Linked DNA regions of Homo sapiens. The protein of the gene in region 1 purifies or fractionates together with the protein of each later gene. This does not show direct contact. Each region holds a gene or a part of one and is shown on either strand. Other genes may lie near its edges.

What was found.
Region 2: the proteins of HVCN1 (region 1) and PIGR purify together in Homo sapiens (affinity purification with mass spectrometry; 2 studies listed by BioGRID and IntAct, with this or other methods). This does not show direct contact.

Annotation. Positions count from the first base shown.
Region 1 is NC_000012.12:110,680,427-110,697,269, reverse strand, and holds the start of HVCN1 (voltage-gated hydrogen channel 1), read left to right. Parts: upstream 1-8,154; 5' UTR 8,155-8,190; exon of another isoform or gene 8,191-8,474; intron 8,475-8,561; 5' UTR 8,562-8,645; intron 8,646-14,005; 5' UTR 14,006-14,024; coding exon 14,025-14,045; intron 14,046-16,843.
Region 2 is NC_000001.11:206,937,968-206,952,511, reverse strand, and holds the start of PIGR (polymeric immunoglobulin receptor precursor), read left to right. Parts: upstream 1-6,045; 5' UTR 6,046-6,176; exon of another isoform or gene 6,177-6,244; intron 6,245-11,927; 5' UTR 11,928-11,980; coding exon 11,981-12,023; intron 12,024-13,048; coding exon 13,049-13,393; intron 13,394-14,544.

The DNA.
Region 1 (16,843 bases):
TCACAGCCCAGGCCTTGTTGTCAATACCAGTTGTGCACTGATGACGCCCAAGCCTCTCTGCCAAATTCCTGACTCAGATCCTACTGCCCAGGTGACACCTCCACTTTGACAATTCAAATAAAACATTATCAAAAATGGGGACATCCTCCACCTGGCCCCCTCCCAGGCTTCTCTGCTTGATGGAGGGCACCACAGTGCACTCCGGTGCTCTGCCCCTTCCTCTCCCCTACATGTCCATGCCACCCACAGTTCCCCCCTGTCTTTTCTGTCTCCCACATGGATCTGGAATCATGCCCCTTTTTCCTTCCCTACTCCCAACCGACTTGTCCAAGCCATCCTTATCTCTCCTCTACACTTCCATTTTTATCTTCCCTATAATCTAATCCCAGATTTATCTGGTTTATTATATAAACCAGAGTTATCTTTTTTAATCAAACCATATCAGTGGATGGAAGGATAAGCAACATGTGGTAGACCCATATAGTGGAATATTCTTTGGCCATAAAAGGAATGAAGGACCATGCTACAACATGGATGACGCTTGAAAACATTGTGCTCAATGAATGACACCAGACGCAAAAGACCATATATGATGATATTCCATTTAAAGCAGGCAAATCCATGGAGACAGAAAGTAGACTAGCAGGTTCTTAGGGCTGGAGGGAGACAGGAATGGGAGGAACTGCTTCATGGGTACAGGGTTTCCTTTTTTTTTTTCTTAGAGATGGGGTCTTGCTATGTTGCCCAGGCTGGTCTCCACCTCCTGGGCTCAAGCAATCCTCCTGCCTCAGCCTCCAAAGTGATTGGGATTCCAGGTGCATGCCACTATGTACGGGGCCTTTGACAGTGTTTCCTTTTGAGATAATGAAAAGGTTCTGGAACTAGATAGCAGTGCAGCTTGCACAACATTGTGAATGTACTAAATGCCACCAGCCGTATGCTTGATAATGGGTAAAATGGTAACGTTTATGTTATGTGTATTTTACTACATTTTTTGTAAAAAATCAAATGGTCCTGGCCGGGCACAGTGGCTCACACCTGTAATCCCAGCATTTTGGGAGGTCAAGGTGGGCAGATCACCTGAGGTCAGGAGTTCGAGACCTGCCTGGGCAACATGACAAAACCCCATCTCAACTGAAAAAAAAAAAAATTAGCTGAGCATGGTGGCGGGCTCCTGTAATCCCAGCTACTCAGGAGGCTGAGGCAGGAGAATCGCTTGAACCTGGGAGGCAGAGGTTGCAGTGAGCTGAGATCGCGCCATTGCACTCCAGCCTGGGCGACAAGAATGAAACTCCATCTCAAAAAAAAAAAAAAAAATCAAACGATCCCTCCCCTGCTTAGAACTCCCATGGCTTCCTGTGCTCCACATGGACTCCAGCCCCTTCTGTGGGCCTCCGGCCTCCTCCCCAGCCTTACTTCTTATGACTCTCTTCACCCTCCTCTGTGCATCCACAATCTTGGCCTCCTTTTGGCCTCATAAGGCCAAGCTCTTCCCACCTCAGGCCCTTCGCACATGCTGTTCTCTCTTCTGAAAAGGTTGTCCCTCTCTCTTCATAGCTGCTTCTACTTCAGCTTTCAGTGTCCGTTTAAATGTCACCTCCTCAGAGACCCCTTCCCTGCTGTCCTGCCTCAGTGGATCTGCATCTCAGTCTCCACCTTTTGTTATCTCCACCACAACCCCCAGCTCATTCCTTTGCAATACTTCATTGTTTTCAAGACAGGGTCCCACTCTGTCACCCAGGCTGGAGTGCAGTGGCGTGATCACATCTCACTGCAGCCTTGACCTCCCAGACTCAAGCAATCCTCTGGCCTCAGCCTCCTGAGTAGCTGGGAATACAGGCATGCACCACCACACCTGGCTAGGTCATGTGTGTGTGTGTGTGTGTGTGTGTGTGTGTACACAAAATAAACAAAATATATGTAATTATACAATTATAATTATACAATTATAATTATAGAAATGTTTATATATAAGTGTGTGTGTGTGTATATATATGTGTGTGTGTGTATATACATATATGTATGTAGAGACAGAGTCTCACTATGTTTCCCAGGCTGGTTTTGAACTCCTGGCCTCAAGTGATCTGCCTGCTTCAACCTCCCAAAGTGCTGGGATTGCAGGCGTGAGCCCCCGCACCCAGCCCCCTTTTCAATGCTTATCACTTTGTAATTTGTCGTTTAGTATTTGTGTGCCTCCCTATATAGACTAAGTTTAATGAGGGCAGGCAGGACCTGCCTGTCTTACTCAACTCTGTGTTCTCTGCCTAGCACATAGTTGGCACTCAGAAACTCTTTGCTGAATTGATGACAGATCACCCAGCGGGCAAGGGAAACCATTGAGGCAGGATTTACACCCAGGCCTCTTTGATGCAATGCCTGTGTTCTTCCTACTCTTCTGTGTGACTCTGAACTGTGAGGCAGAAGGCTGAGCCGAGTGCCAGAGAAGAGAGTTGGAGGTGACCGTGCCCTTTTCACATAGCTGCGTCATCAGGCATCGGTGCCCAGGCCTTGTGCAGATCCCGTCGTGTGGCCGTCACTGCTGTAGATAAATCTTATCTGCTGGGAAAGGCACCTCTGGGCCTAAACAACAGATGTCACTCTAAGAAATCCCAGCAGAACCCCCACCCTGTCTCTGGCTGAGAACTCATCTACTTTTCTCTCCCTCTGTCCATTTTCTCACACTCTACCAGAGCCAGGACAGGGCTTTTGCCCTAGGAAGGGAAGTGGTCAACTGTAGCCGTTGATAACTGCCTTGGAGGAACCAAAACCAGCAGAGGCAGCCCTCTCTCTTCCCGCTGGGGAAAGCCAGAGCTGGCCACTGCCCTGGCCCGGCCCCAGCTGTCCTGGAGCCCAGGGATGGCCCAGTCCCCCAGGGCTGTACTCAGATCTTCCTCAAAATGCTCCATGTGGCCAGGCGCGGTGGCTCATGCCTAGAATCCCAGCACTTTGAGAGACCAAGGCGGGAGGATCCCTTGAGCCTAGGAGCTTGAGACTAGCCTAGGCAACATAGTGAGACCCTGTCTCCACAAAAAAATAAAAATTAGCCAGGTGTGGTGATGCATGCCTGTGGTCCCAGGTACCCAGGAGGCTAAGATGGGAGGATAGTTTGAGTCCAGGTGGTCAAGGCCGAAGTGGGTAGTGATTGCACCACTGCACTCCAGCCTGGGTGACAGAGCAAGACCCCATCCCTAAATAAGTAAGTACACGCTCCATGAACATCAAAAGGCAGGACACCCAGAAAATTCAAGCAAGCTGGGCTCACTGCTTGGTAAGAAATGCGGAGGACCGGGGGTGGGGCAAGGACTGCCTTGTGTAAGAGAACTGCTTTGGTATTGCCCAAACCGGAACAAGTCCTTCATCTAACGCAGTTCCTAATCTTTTTGTAATCTGGGGCCTTTGACATCTGGGGAAGCTTCTGGACCTCTTCCAAGAGTAATGTTTTTCAATGCATAAAACAGAACGAATGCATCGTATTACAAATGATGCCAGCTATCTTGCATTGAAGTTTTGAATTTTTTTTTACTTGTAATAAATAGATGGAGTTCTTATAGTACACATTAAACTATAAGAACAGCTGGCTCAGTAACTACTATAATTTTGAAGTAATGATACATATAAGTTATATTTTGAGATATCTCCAATAACTATACTGTGGTTTAAAAACATCTGTGATTTTGACTGATGACAAAGTTAGTGGGTTTTTTTTTCCGTTTTTTTTTTCTTTTGAGATGGAGTTTCACTCTTGTTGCCCAGGCTGGAGTGCAGTGGCGTGATCTCAGTTCACTGCAACCTCCACCTCCCGGGTTCAAGCGATTCTTCTGCCTCAGCTTCCCAAGTAGCTGGGATTACAGGCATGCGCTACCACACCCGGCTAATTTTGTATTTTTTAGTAGAGACAGGGTTTCACCATGTTGGCCAGGCTGGTCTTAAACTCCTGACCTCAGGTGATCCACCGGCCTCAGCCTCCCAAAGTGCTGGGATTACAGGCATGAGCCACCGCGCCTGGCCAGTTAGTGACGTTTGTAATGCAACTGTAATTTGTTACCTACATTCATAATTGAAGGAAATATTAAATTTCAGTTAAAGGCCAGTGGCTCATGTCTATTATCCCAATTTAAAAAAAAAAATTTGGGGAGGCTGAGGCCGGAGGATTGCTTGAAGCCAGGAGTTTGAGACCAGCCTGGGAAACAAAGCAAGACCCCATCTCTACAAAAAATAAAAATAAATAAATAATAAATTAGCTGGGTACAGTAGCATGTGCCTGTAGTCCCAGCTACTTGGGAGGCTGAGACAGGGGTATCACTTGAGCCTGGGAGTTTGAGGCTGCAGTGAGCTGTGCTCGAGCCACTGCATTCCAGCCTGAGCAACAAAGTGAGACCCTGTCTCTAAACAAACAAACAAAGTAATAATACGTTTCAGTTAGAGGTTAATGAAAATAAAGAATTTTTTTCCCACCCAAGTTAATAGACCTCCTGGATTCTTTCTGTGGACCTCAGCTTACTCTTCCCTAAGTTGTTTTGTTTTTGTTTTTGTTTTTGTTTTTTAAGAGACAGGGTCTTGCTCTGTCACCCAGGCTGGAGTGCTGTGGTGCAATCGTAGCTCACTGCAGCCTCGAACTCCTGGGCTCAAGGGATTCTCCCACCTCAGCCTCCTGAGTAGCTGGGACTACAGGGGCACACCACCATGCCCAGCTAATTTTTTAAAACATTTTTTATAGAAATGGGGTACTGTTCTGTCACCAAGGCTCATCTTGAACTCCTGGGCTCAAGCAGTCCTCCCGCCTCAGCCTCCCAAAGTGCTCAGACTACAGGTGTGAGCCACCATGCCCGGCCTTCTCCTTTAAGTATTGTTGGCCTCACTTTCCCAACTAAAATGGGAGCTCACTAAGAACAAAGGCTGTTCCTTCATCTTATACTTAGTACCTTGAAAGGGCCTACCACACAGTAGGTGGTCACGTGTTAGTCTGTTAGGTCTTTTGGATTTTCTAGGTAGACAATCACATCGATTGCAAATAATAGTCTTTCTCTTTTCAGTCTTTGTATTTCTTTTTTCTTGTTTTATTGCATTGACTGAGCTCATCAGTGAAATGTTGAATAGTAGCAATGATGGAGGGCACCCCAATCTTATTATGCTCAATACTCATTAATTTATGCAATAGGAATGTAAAGTACCTACTGCAGGTCAAATCCTGTGCCTGGGGATAACAGTGTAACACATTTGAGATCTTTTCCTGTCCACTGAAATGCCTGAGCAGTAGCAGTATTTCAGTAAACACGACAATGCTGAGAATATCACCAAATTCTCCAGACTTGCTGAAGTGTTCCTTTGGGATCCTGGTTCCCAAAAAGTATGGACATAGGTCCCTGCTGGTGGCCCCAGGTTCCAGGCCATCAGTAAGGTTGGGGGCTGCAGACTGGACCACTGCACCGTGGAGCAGAGGCAAGTACCCAGGGAGAAGACTGAGCGATGCCTCTGTAGGGGAAGGGATGGGGGAAGGTAGCCAGGGGATCAAGCCAGGCCAGGGTTTGAGCCTTGCCTTGCCTTAGCAGGGTCTGTTGAGGTCACCACCTGTCTGCACTAAGGGTCTAACTACAGGCAAGACCAGATGTTAAGACAGAGGGCTGCAACTTCCAGGTGTGCAACTAGGGGACGGGGTACTTGTTCCCTTTTCCCTTCCTCAACCAGAGGGGAGTGAACACAGAGGAGGGGCTGTTGGGAGCAGTCCCCACATCCTCTCCACTCTGTCTAGCTGGCCCTGGGGGAGGAGGAGAATTTTTAATAAAATATAAGGAAGTTGAAGTTGAAAATGGACCAGACTATGCCTTAGAAACTGGCATGGGGCTGTTGTAATAATACATGACTGAGAAGTCAGGAGATCTGACCAAAATGTTTTTAAGAAAGCCTTCTGGCCAGACGCGGTGGCTCACGCCTGTAATCCCAGCACTTTGGGAGGCCGAGGAGGACGGAGCACGAGGTCAGGAGATCGAGACCATCCTGGTTAACACGGTGAAACCCCGTCTCTACTAAAAATACAAAACATTTAACCGAGCGTGGTGGCGGGCGCCTGTAGTCCCAGCTACTCAGGAGGCTGGGGCAGGAGAATGGCATGAACCTGGGAGGCGGAGCTTGCAGTGAGCCGAGGTCGCGCCACTGCACTCCAGCCTGGGTGACAGAGCGCGACTCCACCTCAAAAAGAAAAAAGAAAGCCTGCTGCAGTCCAGGCATGGTGTTTCACGCCTGTAATCCCAGCACTTTGGGAGGCCGAGGCAGGCGGATCACTTGAGGTCAGAAGTTCGAGACCAGCCTGACCAGCATGGAGAAACCCTGTCTCTACTAAAAAAACAAAAATTAGCCAGGCGTGGTGGCAGGCACCTGTAATCCCAGCTACTCAGGAAGCTGAGGCAGGAGAATTGCTTGAACTCAGGAGGCAGAGGTTGCACTGAGCCAAGATCATGCCATTGCACCCCAGCCTGGGCCACAGAGTGAGACTGTTGCCGGGTGGAGTGGCTCACACCTGTAATCCCAGCACCTTCGGAGGCCAAGGCAGGCAGATCACTTGAGGTCAGGAGTTCGAGACCAGTCTGACCCACATGGTAAAACCCCGTCTCTACTAAAAATACAAAAATTAGTCAGGCATGGTGATGCTGGCCTGTAATCATAGCTACTCGGGAGGCTTGAGGCAGGAGAATTGCTTGAACCCAGGAGGCGGAGGTTGCAGTAAGCCAAGATCGCACCACTGCACTCCAGGCTGGACGACAGTGAGACTCCGTTCCAAAAAAAAGAAAAAAGAAAAGAAAGCCAGCTGCCCAGCAGAATTGGGGAAAGCCGAGTCAGTTGAAGCAGACAATACCCCTATGGGAGGCAGAAGAATGCACCCCCCTACCAAGATATCCACATCCTAACCCCTCCAAACCTGTATGTTGCCTTAAGTGGCAAAGGGGACTTTGCACATGTGGCTATGTGAAGGATCCTGAGCTGGAGAGATTAGCCTGGATTATCCAGGTGGATCCCATATAATCACAGGGCTCCTTAGAAGGGAGAAGACGCTGTGACCATGGAGGCAGAGGTCGGATTGAGACAGCCAAGGATCACAGGCACCTCTCCAGCCGGGAAAAGCAAGGAACACACTACCCTGGCGCCTCCAGAAGGCACAGCCCCACCCACACCTTGATTCTGGCCCTGTAGGACCCATCTGAGACTTCTGGCCTCCAGGGCTGTAAGATAACACATTTGTGTTAAGCCACTAGGTTTGTGGTGATCTGTTAACAGCGGCATGAGGAAACTAACACAACCCCAAGGAGGTGAGCCTCTCCCCACAGCCCCGACTCAACCGGAAGGGAGAGGTGTGCAGAAGACGGCTTTGCAGGATGTTTGGGACAAATGGTCTCTGGGGGAAGACAGAAGCTAACAGAACTGATTCGACTGTGTGAACAGGGTGCTGGGAGGGCCCACAGGGGAGGGACTTCAGAGCTGGGCCTGCGCCTGCGGGGCCGTACGAGTTGGCCCGGAGCAAGGCGGCCCAGGACAGGCAGGGGCTGCACGCGGTAAGGCTCCCTCTTGCCAGTACCATCCCATGAGCAGCCTCAGAGCCCTCGACCAAGGGAAGTTCTGAGGGCTGAGAGGTTGCTCATTCGTCAGAGCGTGCTGCCCACCCTCCACCCCTGCATGGCAGAAACTGTGCAGGGGACGAGGCCAAGGAATCAGGAGACCCAGAGGCAGGGGTGGCCCGGAGACGGTGGGATGGAGCAGAAGCTCCCCGAAAGGGGTTGGCGGGGTGGATTCGCCCCGCTCCAGCCGGCGGAGGAAGGAAGTGGTTCCCCCGCCCACCCTTCCCTTAGGCTGGCCCGGGGCAGGATTTTTGTGATCCGCGATTCGCTCCCACGGGCGGGACCTTTGTAACTGCGGGAGGCCCAGGACAGGCCCACCCTGCGGGGCGGGAGGCAGCCGGGGTGAGGGAGGTAGGGACGAACGGGTGGACTGACCACAGGCAGGGACAAGGGGACTAAGACCCGGGCCGAGGCCTAGAAGCCCGCCGACCGTTGGGGGTCTGCGGGCTGTGGGGGCGGGGACGGGGGCGGGGGCGGCCCGGGCGGGGGCGGGGCCTGGTACGGTACGGGGCGGGACGGGCTGGGCCGGACCTGCTCTGAGGCTCCCAGTCGCAGCGGTGACCGCGGGCGGGTGGGGCGCCGGGTAAGTGCTCGGGCCGGGCGGGGGGCGTACCCCGTTTGGCGTGCAGCCCTTTCTACAAGACCCCCAGTGCCCGATCCTTCCGAGAAGAGGGGACCCCCCCCCGCATCTCCGCTGTCCAGGCCTCGCCGTGGAGCCCCAGCAGGACCCCAGCCCTCGGTTGCCCTCGGCTCTGGCGTGTCCCGGCGCGGGCGGGCAGTGCTTCCCCTCGGCAGGGACTGGAGTCCAGGGGAGGGGAACGCGGGAGACGCTGGCCCTAGTGACCCCCCGATCCCGGAGAGTTGGTGGTGCGCGCCGCCCTGGGCCAGGTGCCTTCAGTTCTTCACACTCCGCGCAGCAGCCACAGGTGACCATCGTCGTCTCCCTCTTAACAGGTGAAGAAACCAAGACGCAGAGAGGCCAAGCCCCTTGCCTTGGGTCACACAGCCAAAGGAGGCAGAGCCAGAACTCACAACCAGGTCTGTGTCCCCTAAGTCCTCGGATGCATCGTCCCTGCCCCGCTGCCCTCCCGGGAGATTGTAGGAGAGAAGCAGGGGCAGAGGCAGTGCTGGATGTCCCGGGAGAAGGCTGCAATGAGCAGGCCCAGCCATCCCTGAAGGAGGAGCCCCGGGGAAGCAAACTCTTCCCTAGAAACACTTTAAAAGCACCCACCTGTTGGAGACAGAGATGCTGAGGAACAAGAGTGATTGGGGCCAGGGTAAACGCCAAGACAGAGAGGGGAGAGCAGTTCCTCAGTGGAACTCCCTCCAACATTGCCCCCACCACTTTTACCAGTGCTGGGTGTGGGGGATCTTGCAGGCTCAGCTTCGTGACTTGGCCTGTCTCTGCCTCAGTTTCCGCATCTGTCCCATGAGGTTAAGCATGTACCTACCTCGCAGGATTGCTGAGAAGATGATATAAGATGCTTGGTGTACAGGCTTAGCCCCTGGCACCAGGTTACTACCAAAAGTTCATGGTTCCAGTGCTTCCTCCACCCTCCGTCCTGCCCCTCTGAGAGTACTTCTCTGTCCTGGGCACCTTTAACTTCAGGTTGTTCAGGGCTATCTGAGATCTGCAGGATTTCCGGACAGCCCCACCAGCAACTAGGAGCTGCTTGAGTAAGACCAAGGTGAGGGGGTGGCAACTTCTCTGGCTGACTCCCCAGAGGGAAAGGCTGATAAGGGCAGGGTTTTGAAAATCTCTGGGCTGAGGCTTGCACAAGGTCCAGAGCTGCTCTGTGGCCCCTGCCCTCCCCGACACAGGTTTAGCAAGAAGGAGAAAGCCAGAGTGTTCTTGTCCCCAGACTTGATCCTTTGCTAGTCATTGGGGCTTGGGCCCTGGGAGCTGTCATCCACCACCCCGCTCCTCGTCCCTTCCCCACAGTCTAGGCTAGCGACAAGTTCTAACCCAAAGCATATCCTGAATCCGGCCACCCCTCCACCCCCTACTTCCACCCTGAGACCAGGCCGCCAGCATCTCTTGCCGCCTCATCACGCTGGACCCCTCACTTCCATCCAAATCCCCAGCATCGCCTGCCAAGCCCTCTCCATGATCAGGCCCTGTGTGATTATTCTCAATTTTTCTCTCTGGCCACTGTCCTGTCCACTGCTGTCCCCAGCCGCCACCTCCTAAGTACTCCGCTCTCTCAGGGGCTGTGCACAGCACACGTGTTCTTCCTTTTCCCGGGAATGCTCTTCTCTGCAATCTGTGACATACTCCCTTGTAATTCAGGGCACACCATAAATGTCGAGTTGTCCCTGACCACCCCACTTAAGGAGACCCCGCCTGCTCCCTGGCCCCTTACTCTGGCTGGCTGGCTTCCCAGTGCTTAGCTGGGGGGGGGGGGTGTGGTCTGTCTTGTATATTTCCTTGCTTCCTTGTTTGTCTCCCCAGGTAACATGTCAGTCTACCAGGATCGTGATCTTGCCCTTTCCTCTTCACCTTGGATTTCCCAGAACCTGGGAAATCAGTGCCTGGCACCTAGGAATGGCTCAGATAGTTTTGTACAGTTGCAGGCAATGTGTCAGCCATCAGCCTATTTTTCTTCTCACTGCTTGACAGCATTTTTTCTCCCGTTTCTACATAGACTTCAGAATTATCCCTCCCAAGAGCCCACTGCCTTCCTCAGCTTTTCCCTAAAGTAGGGCTTGGGGGTTGAGGGCCACTTCCAGGTTTTAGCCATACTATTCAACTTAGCTATAAATATCATTGTCCATATTGTGCATGTTTTTGGCTATCAAATGGCTTCTTGGAGATACAGTTTCCTAACCAAGGTGTGCAAGTCAAGGGTGGGATCATTTTGGAAGCACTTACCTCTTGTGACCAGGTAGCTATTTAGAAAAATCATCCCCAGGAATGTGTGCACATTTCTCTGCAGCTCTGCAAGCATTGGTTTTTATCCTTTTTATTTGTTTTGGCTAGTTTAATGGAGAAGGGCATGGTAGTTTTAAAGTTTCTGTTGCTTGAATTGCTGAAGCTGAGTGTTCCTCTGCGTGTGTGCTAGTTCTAGCTCCTGTCTTGCAAAGGTAGGAAATCTCCAGGGCACCTTAATTTTTCCCTTCACCTCCTCTTGTGGTGATGGTTCCACTTGAGCCCCTCTCGTGAGAGCAGGTTGAGAATCCCAGGGGGCTGGTATAGGGACATGCAAAGCTGAACTCTGCTGGGTCCAGAAGTTGCTCTGCCAGTCAACCAGCGAGAAAGTCTAAGAGTCCCTTGCACCCTCAGCATGTAACTGTGGGGAGAGAAAGAACCTCTTTAAAGTTTTCTTGAAAGTTTATTTCAAAATAATTTTTTAGAATTAGGCCAGGCACGGTGGCTCATGCCTGTAATTCCAGCACTTTAGGAGGCTGAGGCAACGGATCACTTGAGGTCAGGAGTCTGAGACCAGCCTGGCTAACGTGGCAAAACCCCGTCTCTACTAAAAATACAAAAAAAAATTTTAGCTGGGCGTGGTGGTGGGCACTTATAATCCCAGCTACTCAGGAGGCTGAAGCAGGAGAATCGCTTGAACCTGGGAGACAGAGGTTGCAGTGAGCCGAGATCATACCACTGCATTCCAGCCTAGGCAACAGAACGAGACTCTGTCTCAGGGGAAAAAAAAAATTATAGAAGTTACATAGAGGGATCAGGTGCAATGGCTCATGCCTATTATACTAACACCATGGGAGGCTGAGGCAGGAGGATCACTTGAACTCAGGAGTTTGAGACCAGCCTGGATAACATAGTGAGACCCCCCTTTCTACAAAAATTAGCTGGACTTGGTAGTGTGTGCCTATAGTCCCAGCTACTCGGGAGGTTGAGGTGGGAGGATCGCTTGAGTCCAGGATCTTGAGGCTGCAGTGAGCTCTGATCGCACCACTGCATTCTAGCCAGGGTGACAGAGTGAGACCCCAACTCCAAAACAAAACAAAACAACAACAACAAAAAAAAAAGGGTGTGCAGGGTTATTTATGGAAGCGCTGGGGTGGGAGGAGATTGGAAACAACCGTAAATGTCCATCACTAGTAGGATTAAACACATTCCTACAGGGGACTCATGTGCAGCCATGACAAGGCGTGCACTTCATACAGGACACACTGGCATAGAACCACCTCTGAGATACTGTGTTAGTCTTCTGTGGCTGCTGTAACAAATGGCCACAAGCTTGGCAGCTTAAGATAACACACATTTATTATGCTACAGTTCTGGAAGTCAAAAGTCCACAATCGGTCTCAGTGGGCTCGAGTCAAGGTATGGGCAGGGCTGTGTTGCTGCTGCAGGCTCTGGGGGAGAATCTGTTTGCTTGCCTTCCCAACTTCTAGAGGGGCCCACATGCCTTGGATTGAGGCCCCATCCTCCATCTTTAAAGCACTGAATCTTCAGATCTTTCTGACTCCAGCCTCTGCTTCTGTCCTCACAATCTCTTCTTTCTCCTGCCTCCACTTATCAAAGACCCCTCTGATGACATTGGGTCCACTAGGATAATCCAAAATCATTCCCTCCATCTTGAGAGCTGCAACTTAATCATGTCTGCAAAATCCTTTTTGCTATGTAAAGTAATATACAAGTTCAAGGATTAGGGTATGTGCATCTTTGAAGGGGAGCATTATTTTGCCTACCACACCCTGAAGGGAAATAAGGTTCACAGCAGTATGTGGGTTCACATTTGTTTACAAAAAAAATAAAATAAAAGGTTGGGGGAGAGTATCTACTCATGTGCTTGTGAGGGCATAGAATACTCCAGAAGGCGACGTAGGAAACTGGTCAGAGGGTCAGAGCGACCACTTCTGGGAAGGATAATGGGTAGAGGGGAGACTGACTTGTCATAGAATATCTTTTTGTATAATTTAAACTTTTTACTACATGCATAGATCACCTATGTTAAAAATAACGTTTTAAAGTAACACCTACTCATTGTAAAAGTTCACGCCTCCCAGAAGCAGAGAAGGAAAGCCCCACACCCAGATCACTCCCTTTTCTTCCAAAGATAACCACTGCGAAGAGTGATCCTTACGGACCAAAAAAAAGCATCTGTATTTCTTTTGACTTAGATGGGGTCATCCTGTAGACTCTGCCGTAATGTGACTCCTCTGTTTGCTCTGTGGCTGGCGTCTTTCCACGTCCATATGTGAATACTCAACAGCACTAGCAGCTCCTGCTGCTCAGAGGTGCATTCACTGATATAGCTGGTGGTGGGTGTTCAGAAGGTTTTACTGTTTTTCAGAGCAACCCCAACACTGTAATGTCTGTCTTTTTTCAATTGGAGTGAAATTCACATAATGTAAAGCTAACCATTTTAAAGTGAATAATTCAGTGGCATTTAAGTACATTTCACAGTGTGCGGCCTTCACCTCTATCAGAACATTTTCACTGTTTTTCTTTGTATTAAAATTAATAATATATCATTTTGCTTTTTAAAAAATACCTTGTTAGCTGCACAGAACATTTGCATCATCCCAAAAGGAAACCCCCTAATCCATTAAGCAGTCACTCCCCATCCTTCCCTGTCCCCAGCCCCTGGCAACCACCAATCTGCTTGTTCTGGACATTTCATATCCTGTTCCGGACATTTCATATCAATGGAATCATACAATATGTGACATTTTATGTCTGGCTTTTTTCACTTAGCATGGTATCTTTGAGGTTCATCTACATTGTAATAAGTATCAATACTTTATTTCTCTCTCTTTTTTTTTTTCCTTTTTTTTTTTTTTTTAGATAGAGTCTTGTTCTGTTGCCCAGGCTGGAGTGCAGTGGCACGATCTCGGCTTACTGCAACCTCTGCCTCCTGGGTTCAAGCGATTCTCCTGCCTCAGCCTCCGAAGTAGCTGGGATTACAGGTCCCCACCACCATGCCCAGCTAATTTTTGTATTTTTAGTAGAGACGGGTTTTCACCATGTTGGCCAGGCTGGTCTCAAACTCCTGACCTCAGGTGATCCACCCACCTTGGCCTCCCAAAAGTGCTGGGATTACAAGTGTGAGCCACCACACCTGGCCCCCTTCATTTCTTTTTATGGCCAAATAACGTTCCATTGTGTGGACAGACCCATTTTGTTGATCCATTCATCCATTGATGGACAAGCGGGTCGTTTCCACCTTTTGGCTTTTAAGAATAATGCTGTGAAAGCCTATGAACTTTCGTGTACAAATAAGTATTTGTTTGAGTCCCTGTTTCAGTTCATTTGGCTCTATATCCAGGATGTATGCCCTCCTACATATACTTTGTACTTTACACTAATTTCGGGCACAGTTAAAACTAAACTAACTTAAAACTAATTTGTAAGAAAGGATTACAGAGCACATACCAAGGCAGATGGCAGCAAGATGATAGATCTGGACAAATGTCTTTTTATTTTTCAGATCCAGAGGCAACAGGGACATGGCCACCTGGGACGAAAAGGTAATGGATTCTGTGGTCTTGCAGCATTAGAGGATATCCCAGCCTTGAGAGGATAATTCTGTTTGGTGTTTCAAACAGGAGAGGGAGAACTCCCTGTTCAGGTGTTTCCACTATACTGAAATATTTAAAATCAAAATGATGAAAAGCTGTAAAAGGACTTCACAAAACCTCCAAGTAGCCTGATATTCCACATCAGACCATTTGAATCCCAGCCCTGTATGTTAATAACTATGTGCGGTTTTTTTTGTTTTTTTTTTTTTGAGATGGAGTTTCACTCTTGTTTCCCAGGCTGGAGTGCAATGGTGCAATCTCAGCTCACCAGAACTTCTGCCCCCCAGGGTTCAAGCGATTTTCCTGCCTCAGCCTCCCAAGTAGCTGGGATTACAGGCATGCACCACCACACCTGGCTAACTTTGTATTTTTAGTAGAGATGGGGTTTCTGCATGTGGGTCAGGCTGGTCTCGAACAGTGCATGTTAATAACTATGTGTCCTTAGGCACAAAATAACTGTGTGCCCTTCAATTCCCTGAGCCTCAGTTTCCTTATCTGGAAAATAGTGAAAAGATTATTTACCACCCCTGCCCTTGCAGGATTGTCGGGAAGATTTGATAATACAGTGGTCTCAGAATGTTAGGCAAGTACTGAGCCCATACAGGGCTTGGGCACAGAGAAGTAAAGTCACTTCTGAAGATCACACAGCTAGAAAGTGGCAGAAATGGGATTTTAGGCCAGGTGTGGTGGCTCATGCCTGTAATCCCAGCACTTTGGGAGGCCAAGGTGGGCAAGTCACTTGAGGTCAGGAGTTCAAGATGAGCCTGGTCAACATGGCAAAACCCTATCTCTACAAAAATACAAAAATTAGCCAGGCGTGGTGACATGCGCCTGTAATCCCAGCTACTAGGGAGGCTGAGGCAGGAGAATTGCTTGAACTTAGGAGGCAAAGGCACGGTGGCTCACGCCTGTAATTCCAGCATTTTGGGAGGCCGAGGCAGGTGGATCACCTGAAGTCAGGAGTTTGAGACCAGCCTGGCCAACATGGTGAAACCCCATCTCTACTAATAGTACAAAAATTAGCCAGGCATCCTGACACACACCTCTAATCCCAGCTGCTTAGGAGGATAAGGCAGGAGAATCGCTTGAACTTGGGAGGCAGAGGTTGCAGTGAGCCAAGATCGCACCATTGCACTCCATCCTGGGTGACAAGAGCAAAACTCCGTCTCCAAAAAAAAACAGAAATTGGGATTTCAACCTGGCCTGACTCCAGAGGAAATGCTTTCCTCCTGTACCTTATGGCCATCTCGAGTAGGAAATAGACTGTGTCTTTGATATGTGAGGTGCAGGTTTGTTGGATTTGGGGGGCATTGGTTGTGAAGATTGGGGGCAAGGTAGAAAGGAAGTGTTGACTTTCACATCAGCTGTTCATCTTGAGGTTCTGGGGGCCTAGCCAGGCCAAGCTGGCGAGGGCAGAGCAGGAAGCTCAGGGCAGCAGCAGGGGTGAGTGGGGCAGAGTCTGAGAAGCAAATGTGAGGGTCAGAATGACCACGGGATGATGATGATGATGATGGTGATTGTGTATTTCATCAAATTGATGACCCTGGTAACTGTAAGAGTTAGGAGCCCCAGGAGCTCCAGGTATCCTTCATAAGAGAGTCAGCATGGAAGAAAGGTTAAGTGGGAACTGTTCATGCTTTTCCTTCATTTGTAGTTCCCTATTAAATTAGGCAAACCAAAAAGAACATTCGGAAATGCTTAATGCTGATTAGACTGTGATGAAACCAGCTCACTCATACATATCACGGGGGACTGGGTCAACCCATGCCACTGTTCTAGACACAAAATTTGACCATGTGTATCAAGAATCTTGAAAATATCCATATTCAAGCCTGGTCATCTCACTTATGGGAAAAGAACCCATAAAAAAGAAAAAGTACAATTTATGGCACCATGTTTCTTAGCACATGAGACAACACTATGCGTGCACCTTATTTTATGTACTATGAAGAAAAAAAGCAAAACCATGTGCTGCCATTTACTGTGATAAAAAGTAACACAGGCTGAAACCGATCAATTGTCAGGCCCAGCCAGATTTCAGAGACATTAAAATGTGAGAAAACGTGGTCTTAGAATTGGATTAAAAACCATCCAAAATGGTTTAAAAACATGCAAAATGCAATAATGAGATCATTTGACTCCTTGGTAAGTTTCCTGGCCTCTGAACAGGTGCGAATCTGACGCATATAGTGGTAAAAAATAAGATAGAAAATTGTCTGCTGCCTTTTTTTGTTTTGTTTTTTTGAGACAGGGCCTGGTTCTGTCTTCCAGGCTAGAGTGCAGTGGTGCAATCTCGGCTCACTTCAACCTCCGTCTCCTGGGTTCAAATGGTTCTTGGGCCTCAGCCACCCTAGTAACTGGAATTACAGGTGTGCGCCACCATCTCCAGCTAGTTTTTTTTGTTTTGTTTTGTAGTTTTGGTAGAGACAGGGTTTCTCCATATTGGCCAGGCTGGTCTCGAACTCCTGGCCTCAAGTGATCCACCTGCCTCAGCCTCCCAAAGTGCTAGAATTACAGGCATGAGCCACCGCACCTGGCCCACTGTCTTTGATTATAATTGTAAAAGATAAAGACAGGTGGGAGAGAAAGAGGTAGATGGGTAGATGATACATAAGTTTGGTGTGCAGGGATTGTTATGAATTTATTTCCCTTTCTTTTGTTCCTTTTTTCACAATAGTAATAAATAGATCAAGGCTATAGGTCTGTTCATGGGGTAAATGGCAGCAGGTCAAGCTGGGGGTATGCAT
Region 2 (14,544 bases), on another chromosome or scaffold:
CTGAGAGGCAGCTGAGCTAGGAAAACAGTGAAGAATGGGACATCAGGGCAGTGACACAGGGAGGCAGGTGGTCAAGGAGAAGGCAGGGCCTCAGTGTGTTCATAGAGGAAAGTGAAAAGATTTGAGCATTGCATGCACACGTTTGGCCAGTGAGTCACCTCTCCAACACCAACTGAAGACTAGAGCTGCTAATCTGACAGCGGCCTTCCTTCCCTCTTCACGTCCCTGCACGCTACCACCCAGCTTGCCATCCTTTGACTTCCCTGATTAATGTTGTTCTTAGAGTTGACACAATGCTGCCCATTTGTACATGCCATATGCCCTGAGCTCTTTAGGAAGGACTCTAGGAAGCCCCTAGAGAATCACCAATAGTCAGGGTCTTTCTAATGAACTCTTCCCTCTCCCACCTGCCCCTTAATAGGGAGACTCACCTGGGAAAAGGTTTAGGCCTTTGAACATAAATCTGGGCTCAGAAACTCCCAGAAAACATGCCTAAATGCAGCCAACCGGAACATTCAAGTTCCAGCTCCCCTAGTGGGATTCCAAGTAGTGGCTTCACAAGGAAGCATGTTGCCAGCCAGCAGCATTGCCAGCTGGGTAACAAGGGCAGTGGTCCCCACCCAATGCTCTTCTCCCCCAGCCCAAAAGGAAGAACTGAAACAGGAAGAATAAACGCTGTGCTCCTACCACTGAGTGACAGCTAGGGTCAGCAAACGCCATACCACTATCTGCTAATGGGAACAGGTAGCATGAATAATTCCAAACAGCCAGTATCCTCTAAAAAGGGGGGGAGAGTTTATTTAGCTTTGGCAAATTCAGTCACAATTTTATTCTTCAGTGGTTGATTCTAAAATGACTCTGTATTTTAGGCTAGATGAGGAATGCTGGATTGCAGGGCTGGCTGGCCTGGGATTAAACATTGACTCCAGTCAGGGGTTAAACATTGACTCAGGTGAAGATCTGTACATAGGAGCAGAGAGTTGGCAGTAAAGAGCATTTCCTCTGTCCCTCTTATCTCATTTTTATGGCAAAAGCCACACTCAAAGGAACCATCCATGTGGAGGGATGCCCGCTGAGCAGTGGAGAGTGAAGAAGGGCTATCTAGCTTCCCTTTCTCTGTTGGTGATTGTGTCAACCCATGGTTGTGGAGCATCAAGCTAAAGACAGCCTGAAGGGTTGGATTTGTGTGAGCCTGTGGGCTTGGTCATCTGCAATATTCTCTGGCTAAACCAAGGGTGTAAACGGACGTCCCTTGCTGTCTGTAGAAATATCATCCAAAAAATTCATCCTGACAGCAAAAGTTTTGGGAAGTGGAGGAAAATGCTTTCTAGAAAACCTTGGTTCTAGACCCATCTGTGTGATGACCTCCTGTGCAAACTGGAGCAAGTCATTTCACTTTTCTGTTCTTGGTCCTTCATCATTCAGTGGAGAATCACTCTAGTTACGCCATCATGTTCTGGTACATGCTCCTAGTAGTCTCCAAAACTGTCTTAGCAGACAGTGCCAGACACGTATGCATGTACACACACACACTTGCCTTTTGCTGTCCCGTTTATTTGCTGCTGAATCATAAGCGCCTATTAGATGCTAGTCACTGAACATATTATAGCTAATCTTTTTTTAGATTTTTATTTTGGGGAGATAGGGTCTTGTTCTGTCACCCAGGCCAGAGTGCAATGGTGCAATCATAGCTCATTTCAGACTGCAACTCCTGGATTCAAGCAATCCTCCCACCTCAGCCTCCCAAGTAGCTGGGACTACAGGGGTGTGCCACCACCCTGGCTAATTTTTTTGTTTTTGTAGAGACTGGGTCTTGCTATGTGGCCCAGGCTAGTCTCCAACTCCTGACCCCAAGTGATCCTCCCACCTTGGCCTCCCAAAGTGCTGGGACTAGAGGTGTGAACCACTGAACCTGGCCTATACTTAATCTTTATAACATACCTATACAGTAAGTATAATTTTCCCCAGAGACATTAAATAATTTGTTCAAGGTTCCCTGGCTGGCAGGTGGTAAGGCTTGGATGTGAACCCAGGGCGTCGAGGTCCAGAGCCCCTGCTCTTTTCCCAAGGCTACACAGGCTCTCTATGCTTGCTACCTCCTGGCTTGTGTTGTTCCTTGACAGTATTGCATGTGAGTGATGACTTCTCAATTGGACTACTTGCCCTTGTGGAACAGGGGTGCACTCTCCTGCATGTCTCAAATCTCCCTGGACCTTGAGCTTGTCATGGTTGGTAGGCCGAGAAATAACCACCATCCCTCTTCCCCAAGGTTTGTCTATGTCTCAATCTCTGGAGCCCAGAAGTGTGACCTTATTTGGAAAAGAGTCTTTGTAGATGTGATGAAGTTCAGGATCTTGAGATGAGGACATCATCTTGGATTAGCTGGGTGGGCCCTAAATACCATCCATATAACAGAGAAACAGAGAGTTATTTGAGACATACACAGAAGCCAATGTGACTATGAAGGCAGAGGTTGGAGTGACACAGCTACGTGCCAAAGAACACCAAAGAATGTCAGCAGCAACCAGAAGCTAGAAGAGGCAAGCAACGGATTATCGTCTAGAGCCTGGAGGGTGGCCCTGCTGGCACCTTGATTTCAGGCTTCTGGTCTCCAGAACAGAAAGAGCATACATTTCTGTTTTCTTAAGCCACTAAAGTTGTGTTAATTTGTTATAGCAGCTGTCAGAAACTAATACGGTGCTCAACCAAAACACAGAATCCTAGAACTGAAAGAGCCTTGGGAACAATTTGGCACTGTCCTCTGATGGAACAAACAATCCTGCAGACCTACAGGATGAAGTGATCTGGCAAAGGTCACTCGGCAATTAGAGGCAGAATCAGGAACAAAACAAAGGTGTTCCACAGTGACTTATGCTGAGTCCCAGAGTCAGGAAAGTCCAGTGAGAAGCTGTTCTTCTGCTGGTATATTTTCTTGTATGATTACTTTAAAAGAAGCAGGGAGGGTTGAGCAGATGAAGTGTTGTAAGTTTGGAAAGTATAATCACTGCTGTTATCATCATTATTATTGATTTGGGCAATGGACTCTCTTGGCCTGTCCCTCCTCCCCCAGGGCTGAGAAATAGTACTATTTTAGGGCCACTGGGTTCCAGATGGGGAAACCACAGTGCGAGAGGGGAAGCAAGTGAGTCCAATCACACCACCGGCGTGTGGCTGAGCCCAGAATAGGACGTAGGATTTTTGACTCCCTGCCTCTTCCCAGGGCTCTACTTCTCATTTTCCCCTTTCTGTAAACTGGATCAGTAGGATCAGTGGGCTCCAGGTATGTGGGGTGTGTGTGTGTGTATGTGTATGTGTGTGTGTCTGACATGGGTCAGCTAAGACAGTTTTGGAGACTATTGAAAACATGCAGCAGGACATGATCTAGTAAATTACCCACCATCATGAAATAGCAAAGCAGGGAAGGAAATCTGCAACCTGTCCTCCACGCCCACCAAGGCAGCATGAGAAGAAATGATTTAATGAGTGTTCTCCCCTTCCTCCCTGCAAGCCTTTGCTCGTCAAATTTCTGCACTAGTGTTCTGTGAACCTGCCTTGACTTCTACTCCAGCCTGGACAACTGGACACAACTTATTTCTTGCTTTGGGAAGGAAGAAACAAACCCTACAAATATTTTGACTATTGAGTTCAAATGGAGAGAGGTATAAATCGGGAATCCTTTGAAAGGAGCTATAATCTGACAGAACCAGGCTTGTCTCATCTCTGCACCTGCATATCTTGTCTCCCCTCGCATCCTCCTGCTAGACATTAACCCCAGAACTGGGGAGGAGAAAGACTGCTGAAGAGTAAAAAGGAGAGCTTAGTTACTGATGTGTCTTGGTGCCCTCCCACCCACCACCATGGGGCAGAGTCCAGGCTACAGTAGGGGAGAGGGGATTAACAATGATAGAGATATCCAGGTGGGCTTGAAAACTCCAGATTGAGGGGCCCTCACCTTCGCCCATCCTGTAGAGAACTTTGGTGGTCCACAGTCTTGCTGATATCCATTGTACCCCCAATTATATGGGAACACTGGCACACAGGAGGTTACAAGAGTGTTGGGGGAAAATGTGACTCTGCTGCACAGGATCTCCCAAAGGCCTCAGGAGTCTGTGATCAGCCAAACTCACCCTGCACCCACAAGGTGGGCAAGGAGAGGCTGAGGGCCTGGAAGACCCACCCCAGGGAGCTCAGTGTATGGACTAGGAGGGCACAGTGTGGACCACAGAACCCTCAGGATGAGCAGGGACAAAGCCCACTGACCAAGCAGGGGAAGTCACATCTCAGTAGACAAAACTATTTCCTTCTGGAGCCCAAGGCCAGCACAGCATCGTGACAAAGCAAGACCAAAATAATAATGGGCCACCCCTTTTCACTGCCTCAGCAGTAACATTGACCACCCCCTCACCCAAGACCGCTCTCTCCAGACTGGACCCCAGGGGAGAGAAGGGAGACAAAAAGGAAGGGAACTCCATAATGAGGCTAAATTTTAAATCTGGAGTGAAGTGACTGAGAGATCACTGAATTGGGCTGAGCTTGCCTAGAAGTGACTAGGTAACTTGTTTTCTTTTATCAGTCAGATTATGGGTTTAGGGTTTGAAATTAAGCTACATCTGGAAGCCATCATCCTCATCAAACTAACACAGGAACAGAAAACCAAACACCACATGTTCTCACTCATAAATGGGAGCTGAACAATGAGAACACACGGACACAGGGAGGGGAACATTACACATCCGGGCCTGTTGGGGGGGGTGGGGGGAGGGAGAGCATTAGAACTAATAGCTAATGCATGTGGGGCTTAATACCTAGGTGGTGGGTTGACGGGTGCAGGAAACCATCATGGCACACGTTTACCTGTGTCACAAACCTGCACGTTCTGCACATGTAATCCTGGAACCTAAAACAAAATAAAAAAAGAAAATCTAAGTTTGCAAACCACAAAAAAAGAGAGAAATTAAGCTACATAAAGAAATTATGGGGTTTTTTTGCTTGCCATTGAAATCTGTGATTGTGTGTTAACACCCACAAGTGAGCCAGTGGTTAGCTAAAATAAGACCCAGGGCTCTGGCTGCCTTGTGTTTCTCCAGGGCTCTATTTCTCTATTTTTCCTTCCCCTTCTGGTGTTTGGCCTATAGGACTCTGTAGGGAGAGCCTGGGTCAGCCCTGCACAGGTAGGATGGGCAGCATTTCTGTGGGGGTTTGCAGTGAGGGGTCGGGGGGCCATACACGTGTGTGTTGGGGAGTGGGCTTCACTTTTGTCACAGGACTGCCACGATCATTTGGGGAACACCTGGGAGTCCCAACCAGGTCATGTTTTGGCATGGACTAACAGATAGGGAAGGAGGTGCTACTTCAGCTCAGCAGGTCAGCACCGTCCTTGCTATGGAGCCGAGCCCGGGTCCTAACAAGACTCTGAGGTCAGCCATGTTCAGGGGAGCCCAGAAGCAGCGAGTCTTTCATGACTCTGGGGAGTGAAACAGGAAGGGCCACAGTCCTGCCAGTTCCTGGAGCTCTGGGACTGGTAAAAGGGGCTTGGCAGGAGGTGTATAAGGGGCATTTTTGTCCAGGCTAAGTAACCTAGGGAGTCGGAGGGGATTCCAGAGCAACTGGGGATATGAGACCAAGGACTACGACAGCCACTCCTGCCACCTGTGCCCCATCAGATGATGTCAACTTCAAATCAAGCATTGGGCCAGGTATTTTAGAGCTAATACCGGGCTATATCCTCTACCTGTAGATTTGGTATTACCATCCCTCTTTTCCAGATGAAAAGAAATAGGAAGGTGACTTGCCAAAGGTCTTGCAGCTAGAAAGCGACAGAACAGCATCTTCACGCTTGACATTCTGTCCCTCATCCTGAAGCTGCAACGATGGAGGATTCCCAAGTAACAGAGTCTCCCCAAGGTCAAAGGAAACCAAATGGAGCCAGCCAGGAAGGCCAAAATGAAAGGAAAGCAAGGGATCTGTGAGAGTCACATGACCCTGGCTGGCCACGGTGCCTGTGGGAGAGTGGCCCTTTAAGAGCCCAGGTGTGGGTCAAACACTGAGCAGAGTTTCAGTTTTGGCAGCAGCGTCCAGTGCCCTGCCAGTAGCTCCTAGAGAGGCAGGGGTTACCAACTGGCCAGCAGGCTGTGTCCCTGAAGTCAGATCAACGGGAGAGAAGGAAGTGGCTAAAAGTAAGTGTTACTGCTCTGGGATCCCCAGACGGGATGCTATCTGGAAAGGGCTCGGGACGATGGCTCAGGTAACCCCCTCCATTCCCAACTCCCAGTCTCCTAGATAGTGGGGTGACAAGGACAAGGAGGCAGACTGTGTGACTGTGTGTGGCTGGGGAGTAAGCGTGCATATCGCAGTGGGACGAGTAGGGATGCACGTGTGTGGAAGCCCCCCATCCTTTTCTGAGAAATATCAGCAGGTGGGAAGGGACCTCTGTGGTCAGCATATGTAATTCTACTCTTTCAGCTTGGTCTGTGCCTGGATTTCCTAACTCCTCATAGTTGATTAACTGTGTGGCCTTAGACAAGCCACCTAACCTCTCTGATCCTCAGTTTCTTAATCTGTAAAACAAAGATAGAAATAACACCTATCATTCAGGGTCAATGTGGGTTCAAATGAGAAAACACAGGTGAAATAGCTTTGTAACCTCTAGAATGAAATAGGAATTGTTTCATATTTTTCAGTTTAGTTTAATTAATCAAGGATTTATTGAACACCAACAGACCTGGAATTAGATAGTGCGCATAAAGTATGGCACCTAGCAAGTCCTCTTCCATTCTTTGAGGTTTCCCACTTGTGGCTTTCTGGCAAAGGCATGTTCAGCTCCTTTTTTCTGGGCTTCCAAGAACCTCTGAAATCCTTTGCAATTCCACCTCGCTTTGCTCTAGCAGATTCCTGCCATGGGAGACATAAATGTGTGTCATCGCATCATCCTGCCCTTCCTAGAGGTAGAAAAAAAGAGGTCCTCACGGGATCACTGAGTGAGGTGGAGCTGAGCCCCACAGGCAGCATGATCAACTCCTGCTGTTCCTCCTGGCTCTGCAGCCAGCAGATCTCAGACATGGGCTTCCCCTCCCTTTGCCCATCCTGACAGCAGCCCAAGCCAGCAGTGGGACCGTCCGGCACAAGGGCAGCAGCGGGTCAAGCTCCATCCCTGACCCCCAGTTCCCTTTGTGCAATTGCCACAGTGCCTGGGGCCATTGAAGCTGCTCCTATTTTGTGCCATCACTTTCCCCCTTCACTAGGGGAATTATAGATCCTTTAACATCTGGAGAGGAGATGCCAATTTCAGGGGTTTAGGTAGAAGGCAGCTGTCTGGTGCCTGGACATAGGTCTTCCCAGAGCCAGATCTGGAATTCTCTCTCCATCCTTGTCCCGCCCCTGGATGTGCTAAAGTAGCAGAAAGAACACTGAGCCAGGAGTCAGGAAAGCAACTCTCTCTGCTTATCTCCTAGTGCCGCTAGACCTCTGTGGCTTTAGGTGATAAAAAATGGGGTCACACAGGCTTCCATTTAGTAAACCCACTTGCCCTGGGCTTTCACACCTTCGTCTCATTCTCCCTTGATACCAACGAGGAGGTAGGCAGGGTTGGTTTTGTGATGTCATTCCCTAGTTGAGGAAACCAAGACACCGTGAGTCTATGTGAGTGGTGTGAAGTCACCAGCAAGTTTGAACGATGAGGTTTTGGTACAGCCATTTTGATATGGTCATGAGGACATTTTGATGTCACCTAAAAAGCAAACTATCCAACTTAAAAAAAAATACCTATGCATTGTGCTCAGCAGAGACCTTCATCTATGTCTTGCCCTCTCTCTGGAGGGGCTGGGGCTGGAGTCCCAATGTCACTGGCATCGACACAGTATGGTGGAGTGGAAAGAGGCTTTGGCGTCAACATGCCTGGTTATACCCATGGTTATGTAACATATCCTACACATGGTAGGTGCTAAATAAATAGCAGCTAATATTTTCCAGGAAGAAATTTCTCTGTTGGCACCTACCTCTGGGTCCAGGTGTCTCTTCATTTTTTAATTTTTTATTTTTTTGAGATGGAATCTTGCCCTGTCACCCAGGCTGGAATGCAGTGGCGTGATCTTGGCTTACTGCAACCTCCACCTCCTGGGTTCCAGCGATTCTCCTACCTCAGCCTCCTGAGTAGCTGGGATTACAGACCCATGCCACCACACCCAGCTAACTTTTGCACTTTTAGTACAGATGGGGTTTTACCATGTTGGCCAGGCTGGTCTTGAACTCCTGACCTCATGATCCACCCACCTCAGCCTCCCAAGGTGCTGGGATTACAGGCGTGAGCCACTACGCCCGGCCCCAGGTGTCTCCTTATAAGAACTGCCTTTTCCGTGAAAGGCAGAGAGGAAAGAACTGAACAAATTCTCAGTTCGCTAAGATTGAATATCCTGCTTCTTCCTCTCTCCACTGCTTCCTCTCAATAGGAAGACCCTCTGAGGTAAAGCAGAGTGGCTAAGGGCCTATGCTCTTGATCTAGAATCCCATCTAAGTCACTTACCAACTGTGCAACCTTGGGCAAATGTCTCACCTCTCTGTGCCTCAATTATCTCACTCATGAAATGGGGTTGCCCATTTTGTCCCATCTCCTATGGTGGCTGTAAAAATGGAACACATTAACACATGTAAAGCACCTGGAAAGGACTCAGCGTACGTTCTTCTAGCCTAGCCCATAGTGCTTGTCTCCTCTCTTATCCACATGAGTCCAACCTAAGTAGCTCACTCTCCATCTCTCTATCTTCAAAGGATGTCCAGCAAGCAGACTTCTACTCTCATACCAAGTCCAGGGGACCTTTCTTCCTCTGAAAAAGAGGGAAACCTGAGATTAGATGGACAAAGGTTTGGACTCCACACCATGAGAGATGAAGTGCAGTCACTTTAACTGAACAGGAGCTAGTTAAATACATTTTATAAAAAGAAAAACTATCCTTCAGCACAGCTTACACTCCTGCCCCAATCCACAATTGTGGGGACATATGTTACACATATGTTGGGATACTAACTTAGTAAACTGAAAATGATCTAGCACATCCTAGCCTCAGCAGTGAAAAAACAACTGCTAGTTTAAGGACCAGAAAACGTGCCCTCATGCATGATATAATATCATATATATAAAACCCAATAAAGCAGGTCCCTTTGCTCATTTAAAGAGTGATAATGGGGTAGTGACCTCAAATTAGGATTCTGCTGTGGGTCTTGGGGTCGAGAATCCCTATAACCCTTAGATTTCCAACCTGTGTCATGAGGATAACAACATCTATCTCTTGGGTTGTTGTGCTGATGGATGAAGTCTTACAAGAAAAGAACCTAGCAAAGCATTTGGCACGTAGCAGGTGCCCAACATTATGTTCTTTTTCTTCCTTCCTTAAGCAAATCCTTTAAATCCAGCCCCAGCCACCCTGGGCTGGGGAGGTCTCCCGAGATTTGAATCCCCAGGTTTGGAAGAAAGTCTCTGGTTTTGAGAGGAAGGGGTCTGTAATGATTCTGAAAGCTCGAGGTCCTTTCAAATGCTACTAGAGAAATTGTGCTTCAAGTTTTAGCTTTGGGCAAAGAAGAGCTCCTGTTCCTGAAAGCAGGGGTATCCTCTCCTGCCAATCATCCCATCTAGGACTGGACTGTGTGCATCCCGCTGATGTTGCCATCTGCCCGACCTGCCTGTGCATGCCTGATGCTCTCATCCCTGGCTTGAGACCATGCAGAGGGTAATGGGTGCACACACATGTCCCCTCTCTACACAAACATGCACAGCCACCCAAACATGTCACAAAATGAGAAGTCTGGGACAGAGGTCAGGGTGGTCTTCACCTTGGAGAAGCTGGCATCTGACTCTCTGCAACCCAGGCCAAGTCCAGAGGAGGGCTGCATCCCCCAGCTCAGCTTGTGGGAAGACCACTCCTGTCTCACGCAAATATGAGGCAGCTTGCTTATCTAGAGGTGAGGACAGGAACAAGAAGCAAGGACAGCTGCTGCTGGTGTGGGTTCTTAAAAGCAGGCAGCATTTTGTCCTCCCACCTGTGACTGCACCCACCCTGTGCCAGCACAAGTAGAAAATGGTAGATCTCCCAGGACTTTGCAGCCAGCCCATCCCAACTGTTTCTGAGACTTCCTGGCCTCCTGAAAGCTGCTCCCACCTGGGAGCATCTCCCATGGCAGCTTGCAGTGCCCACGCAGGTGATGACATCCCAGCTAGTGTCCCCTGATTGCTTCCATGTTGGAGCTGACTGGTATTTGGCCAAGGCCCCACTCCAGGCATTAATCATTGACCTGGTAAGAAAGGTCTGGGGCAATTAACCGGACTCAAGAGAGCCTCAACGTTGCCATCTGACACCCATATTTGTTCCCACTCCCTCCCTTTATTCTTCCAAAGAACTGCAGAAACAAAATACCTTTATATTCACAAGGAAATAAAAGGTTCCTTGCTGGGAAATTCCCCTGCAACAAAGAAATAACCAAGATAAACAACTCTATTGCCTTTGGCTCAAGCTGGTGAAGGGAGTCTGGGAGCAGGAGCAGGGGCCAGGGTGGTGAGGGAGGTCTGGGAGATAACGCCCAGCTTCCTCCTGCTTACAGCGTCCTTATCTTTATGGGCACTCATTACTGCCCAAACTTACGATCATTTAACACTCTCTTTGTCAAGACAACTCCAAAGTTTAAAGTCTGTCAAAGTCTGGGAAAGTGGAGACTTCTGTCTCCTCCTCTAGGCTGTAGTTGGGGTCTTGATGACAGCTGCTGTCAGGCAGACCCCTGGGACCCTCAACTCTCCTCAGCCCTGGGCTGTGTCCACGGTGGAGACAAAGTCCACACAGGCTGCTCCGTCTGAGTGGTCTCATCTTCGATTCTTCATCTTTGTCTGCCAGGCCTTACCAGGCAGGATTACAAAGACCCTAACACCTAAGCTTTTAACCCCAATTCCATAACCAAGTTGCTGGGAAAACGTAAGCCTATCATTCAGCATCTCAAGACCTCAATGTTTTATCCATAAAATGGTTGTGATTATACCCGTCTGTCTTATTTCAAGGGAACATATAAAGCTCAAATGAAATAATGTAAATGGTAGTGCTTTCATAAGCAACAGGGTCTCTACAAATAACACAAATAAGCATAAGGTAAAAGCATGCTCTTGTATTTGGGGTGCGATACAGTAGTGGAGAGGTTAAGCACATGGACTTTGCAGTCAGACAAAGGTGGGCCCAAATCTTCCCCGACCCCCATTCTGTGTACCCCCACACATTTAACCCCATGTGCCCTTGAGGAAAGTACTTAACCTTGAAGCCTTCATTTCCTCCCATGTGAATGTGGATAAGGATACTAACCTCACAGGGCTGATATCAAGTCTGTATGAGATAGTACACATAAATTATTCAACACAGTGCCTGAGACAGAATAAGGGAGCAATCAATGGGGTTAGGACCATCATCATTACATTTACAGCCTTAATAATCATGACACCTCCTCTGTGGGTCTCAGTTTCCTCATCTGAACACACTGTGAAATATGTCAGCCCGCTTCACCTCCCAGGAATGTAGGGAGGGCAGCTGAAACAGAGAGATGGGGGCCACGTATTGGTAGGAACCAATCACCCAGCAAGCCATTCCTGAGATCTTACGGTGTGCCTGGGACTGTGTCTCATGGGCAGGGAAACAGAGCAAATGACACAATATCTCTATCCCAAAGGAGCTTGCAGCTTAGTTGAGAAGACAAAAGCTACTTCTAGCTATTAAGGATATACAAGTGTTGAAGGATGATAAGACTTTGAATTGTTATGGAAAAAGTGGAGGCACTGATTCATTCAACAGGATTTATGTCAGTTGCTGGAGATACAAAGCCAAATAGATGTCACAGAAACTCTAAGGTCAACTAGTCTTGGAAGACAAGGGGCGCTTCATCTCCTTGTGATTATTGTTTTTCAGCATTGCACAGGAGAAGTCGGCCTGAGTGGTGCGGCGCTCGGGACCCACCAGCAATGCTGCTCTTCGTGCTCACCTGCCTGCTGGCGGTCTTCCCAGGTGTGTCTGCCAGGCCCCAACTCTCCAAGCTCCACCCCTTCAGCCTGCCCGACTCCAGGGTTCACCTCCCTGGGGACACTAAAATCAGACTCATCCCCAGGGATGTCCCTCTCAAAGTTGGCACTTCCTTGAGGAAGAGTCATACAGAGAAGACACTGAAAGGCCACATCTGTGAGCATTGGAAGTCAGGGACAGGAATGGCACTTCCTAATCTCAAGGCCAGGGGTCTGTGAAAGATCTTCTTTGAGAATAACAAAGACCTTAACTTCAACCAAGCATCTCTATGACCCGCTGTGAAATCTGAGGGAAGTCACTTATCCTTTCTGGCTCTCAATATTTTTATCTGGGGGAAAAAAAAGAAAAGAAAATCATCTACAAAGTGCTTTTAGAAATATAAGGAAATAACACATGGCAAGTGCAAACATGTAACACCTTACGAAAGTGGTGTTATTGTTTGAAAAAACAATGGATGGCTGGATGCTGGCTCACAGCTGTAATGCCAGCACTTTGGGAGGCCAAGGAGGGTGGATTGCTTGAGGTCAGTAGCTCAAGACCAGCCTGGCCAACATGGAGAAACCTTGTCTCTACTAAATAGAAACCAAAATTAGCTAGCATGCACCTGTAGTCCCAACTACTTGGGAGGCTGAGGCATGAGAATCGCTTGAACCTGGGAAGCGGAGGTTGCAGTGAGCCGAGATCGTGCCACTGCACACCAGCCTGGGCGACAGAGAGAGACTTTGTCTCAAAACAATAAAAATATATAAAATAAAAAACAAGGGTTATCATAAATTTGTCATTCCCTTGTCCTTGAAATGGTTATCATTAATGAATAACAATTCCAATTTAATCATGATTAAAACAGTCACTTTATTTAATCTCAGCAATTTTCCAGCTGTGATATATGATAAATTATCAACACAGGGCCTACGTGTCAGGTAGAAAACCACATCTACTCATAGTGGGTTATCTGGAACAGGCTTTACCTCCCAAGGGCCTCAGAAAGCCTCTCTCTTCTGTTCCCACAGCCATCTCCACGAAGAGTCCCATATTTGGTCCCGAGGAGGTGAATAGTGTGGAAGGTAACTCAGTGTCCATCACGTGCTACTACCCACCCACCTCTGTCAACCGGCACACCCGGAAGTACTGGTGCCGGCAGGGAGCTAGAGGTGGCTGCATAACCCTCATCTCCTCGGAGGGCTACGTCTCCAGCAAATATGCAGGCAGGGCTAACCTCACCAACTTCCCGGAGAACGGCACATTTGTGGTGAACATTGCCCAGCTGAGCCAGGATGACTCCGGGCGCTACAAGTGTGGCCTGGGCATCAATAGCCGAGGCCTGTCCTTTGATGTCAGCCTGGAGGTCAGCCAGGGTAAGGATCCAAGCTCCTTGGGCTTCTGGGGGAAAGTTAGAGGGAATTCTCTAAGGTGCATGGAGGGCTTGAGGAGGAACTTCCTGACAAGGATGTGTAGCCGGGTTGGGGGTCAGAAGGCACCCCTTTCCCCAGGCAAAGACTTCTTTAACAGGAGAAGGAGACAGATAGGGCCTACTTGGGGGTGATGAGTGAACCCTTCTAGGACTTGGTGGCCTATAACATTTTAGGCTTTCTGGAGACCCCAGCTTAGAAGGGTATCAGAAGGACAAGTTTTCTGGTGTTTGCTACAGGTAGAAAGGGAAATCTGACATCAGGCTAAGGAGATAGAAAAGGTAGGGAGAGATTTACAGGGATCCTTAAATTCCTATCATTAATGCACCTTTCCATCAAGGTTTGGGCCGCCAAAAGGCTTCTTGTAAAATGCATATTTTTTTTTTAACCTGGGAACCCTTAGTCTTTTGGTATTATCAGGGTAAATTAGATTATTAGATCTTGACCAAAGACCAAGATCCTGAAAGGATGGGTTGCTAACAAGCCTATTCTAGTTGGAGAAAGAGAAAAAAAGAAAAGCTCTTTCTGACAAGGGTTTAACAATGAGGCTGTTTTAGATAGTCAAGGGCAACTCAAAAGAGAGGTCTACGGAGAAAAGAAATTCAGGGGGACTCCCAAAGACATGTCTTGCTCCTTTGGAATATGCATACTATTGTCTGTGGACTAAATGAGGAGGTCATTTAGGTGGGGATCAAGATTCAAAACCACAGAATCTTTAGAGGTGAAGAGGGCTTAGAGTTCACCCTAACCGGACACTTAGAAGAACATGCTGATGACGGGTATGCAGCCTCTGATTAAGCACTTTAGCAGAAACTCACTGCTCCCTGAGACAGCCCATTTCACATTTAGACTCTTGTAATTTTTAGAAACTTCTATTGTATGCGTTGAAATCCATCACCCTGCATTTACATTCATTCTGTTCATTTCAGCACACATTAATTTGGCCACCTACTACCCAGAGGCATTGTGCTTGTCACAGCAGAGGGGTCAAACATGAGAAAAACATGTTCCAGCCTTCAAGGAACTTCCAGTCCATGGAGAACATAATTACCCATACACCAGATTGGATGTAATAAGTGATGCAGATGTATCAAGAA